2 linked regions of the Homo sapiens genome follow. The protein of the gene in region 2 purifies or fractionates together with the protein of the main gene of each other region. This does not show direct contact. Each region holds a gene or a part of one and is shown on either strand. Other genes may lie near its edges.

Region 1 (3,500 bases), on a different chromosome or scaffold from region 2:
GTTAATGAATGCAGGATGAAACAAAACTAGCATAGCCAAAAGTTCCCATCCAAAATGATTTTCTTTAGGAAAAGTTAGCCAAATCTTAAAAACAAGCAAAACAAAACAAAACAAAAAACCTGTGAAGTTTAAAACTGTTTAAGGCCAGGCATGGTGGCTCATGCCTATAATCCCAGCACTTTGGGAGGCCAAGGTGGGCAGATCACTTGAGCCCAGGAGTTCAAGACCAGTGTGGGTAACATAGAAAAATCCCGTCTCTACAAAAAAAAAAAAATATATATTAGCCGGGTGTGGTGGTGTGTGCCTCTAGTCTCAGCTACTCAGGAGGCTGAAGTGGGAGGATGACTTGAGCCCAGGAGGTGGAGGTTGCAGTGAGCCGAGATCGTGCCACTGCACTCCCGCCTGGGTGACAGAGCAAGACTCTCAAAAAAGAAAAAAGAAAACAAACAAAAAAAAATTTTAAATATTCAGAAACTAAAAAATGAACTAGCAAATAAATCAAATAAATCAGAATCCTTCCAGAGCTAAAAAAACATTCCTTCCAGAATTCGAATTCCTTTAATTCACTTTGGTTTATGTATAACAAAATCAAAGGCTCCAGAAATCTTCAAATAATACAGCAAAGCACCGCAACAGTATGCTCCATCTTTAGACATATCCAGACCAAAATGTGCACACGCAAAATGCCAAATACACACGCTTACCCTTTCAAGTAGGTCTTAGTTCTACCCCCAAACTCAAAAATTATTAAAGATTATACAAGTAATTCCTTTCGCTTACCTGTCAGCCATATTTCTCCACTTAAAAAGCAAATTACTTGCAGAATCACCGATGGGCAGGTGCAATCTCTCCTTAAAATATTTCACAATGCTTTGTTCCTCTAAAAGCACAGGAACTCGGTATGTGGAAGAAACATCATGGATACATATGACCTAAGTGGCGATGAGAAATCACCATACTTAGATGGATCTATTCAAATATGCCACCACAAGAATGAAACAAAATTCAGCAGAGACTGGCAGTTTATTTACACTGATATAACACACACACACGCACACACAAAAACCCAGCAACCAAAGCTAGCATCAGAATTTGCACAAGGTTAGCTTCATTTAATTAGAAAACTAATCCCAGCACTATGGGAGGCCGAGGCGGGCAGATCACCTGATGTCAGGAGTTCGAGACCAGCCTGACCAACATGGTGAAACCCCACCTGTATTAAAAATGCAAAAATTAGCTGGGCATGGTGACATGTGCCTATAATCCCAGCAACTCAAGAGGCTGACGCAGGAGAATCGCTGGAACCCAGGAGGCGGAGGTTGCAGTGAGTCGAGATCGCACCATTGCATACCAGCCTGGGTGACAGAGCAAGACTGTATCTCAAAAAAAAAAAAGAAGTGTACACAAAACGATTGGACAGGTCAGGTGTGGTGGCTCACGCCTGTAATTCCAGCACTTTTGGAGGCTGAGGCAGGCGGATCATCTGAGGTCAGGAGTTCAAGACCAGCCTGGCCAACATGGTGAAACCCCATCTCTACTAAAAATACAAAAATTAGCCAGGCATGGTGACACACACCTATAATCCCAGCTACTCAGGAGGCTGAGGCAGGAGAATCGCTTGAACCCAGGAGGCAGAGGTTGCACTGAGCCAAGAGTGCACCACTGCATTCCAGCCTGGGTGACAATAGTGAAACTCTGTCTCAAAAAAAAAAAAAGATTGGACGCAAACAAAATGGCATGACAACATATCAACATACAGATGCAGAAGTGTCCCTTCAATCTGCCATCACATTTTTCAAAGTAGTTCAGACTTCGGCAATGACTCTGAGGCATCAGGCAGGGGGCTCTCCATCAGACTATTTTCCAAGATGCCAAAATTCAATTTGATCATTTTTAGACTTCAGAGAACCCAGAGTTATAATCTGAAGAAAAGATTTCTGCCAAACCTCACCCTTTTCCTGAGCACCATTTATATCACTCTCTTTAAACTATAGGTAACTCCAATCCCTTATAACCAAGCCTTATTGGAATCAAGAGACAGAGATGAGAGAAGGAAAGAAAAAAGAAAAGCGAATTATCAGAATACCAAGGTGGAAAGCCCTACAGAGCAGAGAACCTAAGCCCAAATCACAGTACAGTTTCTGTACCAATGAAGTCAACTGAGCCCACTGATGGAGTCAGAAGAGCTAGTGCGAATGTCAACGTGCTCGTGTGTTTGGGGTGACTTAAGCTGCCACAGGTAGAGAGGAGAAATGAGTGAAAGCAGTAAGTGTTCCAGAAGGAAACACAAGATAAAGAGATGATAAGTAGGCTTCATGTGGTTCTCTCTCTAGAGGTTTGACTGTGAGTTAAACACCCACCCTGGTACTGGGCACGATGGCTCACGCCTGTAATCCCAGCACTATGGGAGGCTGAGGCGGGCGGATCATCTGAGGTCAGGAGTTCGAGACCAGCCTGGCCAACATGGCAAAACCCCATCTCTACTAAAAATACAAAAAAATTAGCCAGGCGTGGTGGCGCATGCCTATAATCTCAGCTGCTCAGGAGGCTAAAATAAGAGAATTGCTTGAACCCAGGAGGCAGAGGTTGCGGTGAGCTGAGATCATGCCACTGCACTCCAGCCTGGGTGACAGAGTGACACTCTGTCTCAAGAAAAGAAAGCCCACCCTGGTTTTGTGACATAAGTTGAGTGATCATGCAAAGAAACATGCATCCTATCTCACTTAAGGGCTAGGGAATCATGGTTGGATCAGGGTTCCCCAGTGCTTGCATAAATGCCGTGAAAAGTAATATGATCATTGAAGAGGTACAAAACACTGGCATCAGCAGAAGTGCCTGCCAGACAATAAAATCTAAAGAGCAGCACCAACCTGTTCAGGGTTCACGTGACAAAACATAGAAATCTTCTCCTTCACGGCCATCTCAATGGGCGTTGAACTTCGGCAGACAATCTGTCAAAGCCAGTTATGCTTCAGCAAACAGGATTCACTTTCAGCAGGATGCCACATTCATTTCTTTTTACAAGAAACTTGGCCAAGTATGTACTTGTTCACTTTGGACATTCCACTGGACTATTAGAAATTGGTCTGAGCACTAATATAAGTATAATCAAATTCAGCATAAGTGTATCAGTAAGAACTCGAAACATCGAGACGTCTCTGGTGAACAGAGTCCAGGCTCACAAGTGTTGCTTCATTAACTACAAGAAAAGAGCTAGATCGGGGTTAACAAACTTTTTCTCAAAAGGGCCAGATGGGAAATATTTTAGGTTTGCAGGTGACACAGTCACTGTCCTGATCCTCAATTGAGGTGCAGTGTGAAAGCAGCTACAGACAATATGTAAATGAATGGGTGTGACTGCATGCCAATAAAACTTTACTTACAAAAACAGGCAAGCAAGTTGTGGGCTGTTATTTGTCAACCTCTGACAGAGACTACTGGTGATGACTGGATCACCTGCTATAAGGACACATCACTGTTTAGACTAAAAATAAGAGCAG
Region 2 (4,250 bases):
TCAATAGGGTACATTGCTACTCACCTGGTAAGTCATCTTGGCCAATCCTGATCTTTGGACAGAGTTCATTTCCACCATTAGAATTGGAATTGACAGGGAATCCTGCAAAAGAGATAGCATGTCATTCTACTTCATCCACTCTAACTTAAAGTATAATAATAATAAAATAAAATAAAATAATAATAATAATAATAAAATTTAGAACCAGAAAATAGCAATTGACCACAAAAAAAAGATTTCAGGATGTATCAATAATAATAAATATTTAAAATTCAATATTATACCAGCTTGCTTAGAGGTAAAGTGTTTGGCTTTACCTCCATGCCTCTACGATTATAATCTGTCCACCTGCAACTCATCCTGGAAGGGGTGGATGCAAGGCACAAAGTTGCTCTAATAATCTGGCTGGGAAAATGTTCGTTTTGAAGAGGTTAGGCATTTGTTCCTTTTGAAACCAAAGCTGAATGGTGTCCTGAATGGCACAGGGTCAGAAATCTGTTTGGAAAATTCCTGGTGGTTTGGGCTAGAAAATGTTCCTTAAACACCACAAATTTTAGGATTCCAGTGAGATTCCAGAGCCAACCTTGGTCCAGTTCAGTGGGGCTTCTGGAGAGTAGAGTTCTTAGGAATCTTTGTCAGATATAGGGGCCTGGGGAAGTCTTGAGATTCACTAATCCTAAATAAAATATAGAGGATGGATTTGATTTCATAAATTCGTTCTAAGAGATCAAATAAAAGTCCCGACTAGATTAATCCTAACATCTTAGAACTGGGAAGAGTAAAAAGAAGAAGAAAATAATCATGAGAAGGATTAAATCCTCAATTTGATAAGAAATCATAGAATGGAATTGTGTTCTCCTTACACAAATGGAAGGTCAAAGGGAAGAGAGATTTTTCACCACCACAGAAGGCTTCTTGGAAATATCCAACCTCAGTGCCTTGCTAAGATTCATCTGACAACAGAGACTCTCTAGACTTCAAAAAAAGTATTATTCAGTTACAAAGCATAGGCCCGGCGCTGTGGCTCACGCCTGTAATCCCAGCACTTTGGGAGGCTGAGGCAGGTAGATCACCTGAGGTCAGGTGTTCAAGACCAGCCTGACCAACATGGTGAAAGCCCGTCTCTACTAAAAATATAAAAAATTAGCCAGGCATGCTGGCACATGCCTGTAGTCCCAGCTACTTCGGAGGCTGAGGCAGAAGAATCACTTGAACCTGGGAGGCGGAGGTTGCAGTGAGCCGAGATTGTGTCATTGCATTCCAGCCTAGGTGACAGAGTGAGACTTCATCTCAAAAAAATAAAAATATAAATATAAAAAAGCATGGGCCTAACCATAATGGTACATCAAACATGCTCTTTATACTCTCCTCACCCCAAATTGTTGAGGTCCATCCATCCATCAGTCTATTTATTCATTCATCCATGTATTCACCCAACATTTACCAATCACCATCTGTACTAGGCACTGCACTAGGCACTGCAGCTCACAGATTGGCCTTCCTACCAACTGTGATTACTGACAGGACTTACTTTCCATACCCAGCATTGACCATGGAAAACCAGAACCTAATGTATCCCTGTGCCCCAAAGCTGGATTGAAGAGTGAGGGTGTGAAGGACTATGAATGCCTCACTCAGTCTTCAGTCAGCCACAGCCCTGCCTGATCATTTCTGGGAATAAGTGATCTTTGAAAGTCTAGAAACTATGGCCCTTACTGGGGCGACGCTTGACAGCTGCAGATGCCCAGGGTTCCAGGAAACTGCACACAAAGAAGAAAACTGGAATTTTCCTGAAGAAGAGAGAAGAAAAATGACTGAAACAGGAGTCCCCGCAGATGGAAAACACTTCCATATTTTCAAACCTAGTAAACCTAATTAATGTAAGGTGATCAAATCACAGTATAGTTTTTTTTTCATTTCTTTTTTTTTTTTTTTTTTTTTTTGAGACGGAGTCTCGCTCTGTCACCCAGGCTGGAGTGCAATGGCGCGATCTCGGCTCTTTGCAACCTCCACCTCCTGGGTTCAAACGATTCTCCTGCCTCAGCCTCCTGAGTAACTGGGATTACAGGCACGTGCCACCACACCCAGTTACTTTTTCTATTTTTAGTGGAGACAGGGTTTCACCATGGTGGTCAGTCTGGTCTTGAACTCCTGACCTCGTGATTCGCCCGCCTCGGCCTCCCAAAGTGCTGGGATTACAAGCATAAGCCACCGCACCCAGCCTTCATTTTTACTTTGAAACCCTACTGAGAGATGTAAGGAACTCATGTTTCCAGACCCCACTGTCGTTGTTGTTTTATTGATCTCACCTTCTCGGTATCTACCTATCTCACTGTTTTGGTACCTATTTCTTTGTCTCTGGTTTCTTTCACCTTTGATTTCCTTCCTCTCTTTTTCTGTGGCCGTCACTTTCTCTCCCTTCCTCTGTCTGTCTTCGGTTTTTTGTGTCTGTCTTCGGTTTCTCACGCTTGCCCTCTTGTCTTACTCTCTCATCCGTCTCTCTTTCTGTCTCTCACCTTGAGGCTCACCTACTCTCATCTTACCACTGCTGCAAAAATACAGACCCTTGGTTCTGAGGACCCCCAGCTCCATCTCCCCACCACTCTTTCCAGGGTTATTGTCTTACCAGCAGGTCTTCATTTTCCCAGTTGATTTTCTTTGTTTGCCAACAGTCCCTATGAAGAAGGGGTTGGAAGGGAGTCACTGTCCCCTCACGACCCCTTCACTGTTACCCTAGGACTATGTGTTCTGGGCCCAGCCTTGGTCCCTCCTGCCCCCGGTGAGGGCTAAAAGCAAAGGGAGAGAACCAGAGGCATCTCGTGACACTTTAAACTGAAGCAAAGGAAAGGGGTGGGGAGAAGCAGCGCTCTGAGCCCAGGCCTAGGGGTGTGTCCTCAAAGCTAACAAGGTTATACTGAAGGAGGGATTTACAGGGGAAAGTTTGCTGAAAAGAAAAAAATAAAATCAGGATGTGGGGAAATTCACCAGAAAGATCCAGGCAAGGTGCTATAGGAACACAGTAGATGCTTTTAGATCTGCTATAGGAGTACAATGGCAGCTTTCAGAACTGCTATAGGAATACAGTGGAAGCTTTCAGAGGGCTGAGGTTCCAGTAAAAATGTGCCCACTGGGAGGCAGAGGTGTGGAAACTCGTGGGAGCCTTGGTGCCCGATCAACCTAAGTTTCAATCCCTGTTTATTCTGAAGCTTACTAGCTGTGTGTCCTTGAGAGAGTTACTTCACCTTTCTGTAACTAGATGCCCTAACTGTAAAACAGATTGAAAATGCTTACATTAAAACAATGGTTTTGAGAATTAAATGAGGTATCAAAGGCAGAGGGTCTAACACCCAACAATCATTATTTGTCATCGTCTTCATAGCTAACGCTTCATTATGCACCTCCGTCTGTTGAAAATGCTCAAAGCTTAATGCCATTTAATTCTCACAACAACATTATAAGGTAAGACTGAAGTTACCCTTATTCTCCAAATAAGAAAGTTGAGGAAGCAGAAAATGAAGTAACTTTTTCAAAGTGCCATGCCTATTACTAAATACACATTCCCTCTCTCTACCTCATGGATAGAAATCCTGATAAAATGTAACATCAAGCCCCCTACTTGTTGTTTATTCTTAAACTCTGAGACTACCAGAGTTGAGCAGAGGACACTGTATCTGGAAAGAAGCAACATATTATCCTCCGTTAACAAGGTGAGAGCAAATTACAAGGAGCACAAACCTAGAGAGAGGCATGTTATCAGCATCGCTACCACACATGCCATGCCGTCTCTCCAGAACCTGAGCACCTAAAGAGAATTCCCTATAGCCCCCACATCACCCCCGTTACCACCCACTCAGCATGGCCAACCTCTGGCCTTGTCTTGAGGGACACGGGTGGTTACTCCAAAAACCAAGACTCTAAAGGTCAGAAGATCCAATGATCTCAAAAATCACAGTACAAGCAAAGTAATTTTTAGGTGAACTTTTTTTTTTTAAGAGACAGGGTCTCAGGTCTCGCTCTGTCCCCCAAGCTGGAGTACAGTGGCATAATCATAGCTCACTACAGCCTTGAACTTCTGGGCTCAGGGGATTCTCCCACCTCAGCCTCCTGAGTAACTGGGATGATAGTCATGCACCACTGCACCTGGCTTCTTGAAATTTTTAAATTTCGTTTTCTAATTGATTTAATTTTTATTTAATTACAAAACAATAGCGTTGCTTCTTATTTTTCATTTGTTTATTTCTTTTCCAAAA

Evidence for each region. The genes of interacting proteins can lie anywhere in the genome.
Region 1: the proteins of COL9A1 (region 2) and CTPS2 purify together in Homo sapiens (affinity purification with mass spectrometry, with the first as the bait; one large-scale study listed by BioGRID). This does not show direct contact.

What each region holds. Positions count from the first base shown.
Region 1 is NC_000023.11:16,688,670-16,692,169, forward strand, and holds part of CTPS2 (CTP synthase 2), read right to left. Parts: intron 2,952-3,500; coding exon 2,871-2,951; intron 933-2,870; coding exon 781-932; intron 1-780. UniProt on the Homo sapiens protein: Catalyzes the ATP-dependent amination of UTP to CTP with either L-glutamine or ammonia as the source of nitrogen. Constitutes the rate-limiting enzyme in the synthesis of cytosine nucleotides.
Region 2 is NC_000006.12:70,300,285-70,304,534, forward strand, and holds the start of COL9A1 (collagen alpha-1(IX) chain isoform 1 precursor), read right to left. Parts: upstream 2,801-4,250; 5' UTR 2,641-2,800; coding exon 2,627-2,640; intron 1,791-2,626; coding exon 1,717-1,790; intron 103-1,716; coding exon 25-102; intron 1-24. UniProt on the Homo sapiens protein: Structural component of hyaline cartilage and vitreous of the eye.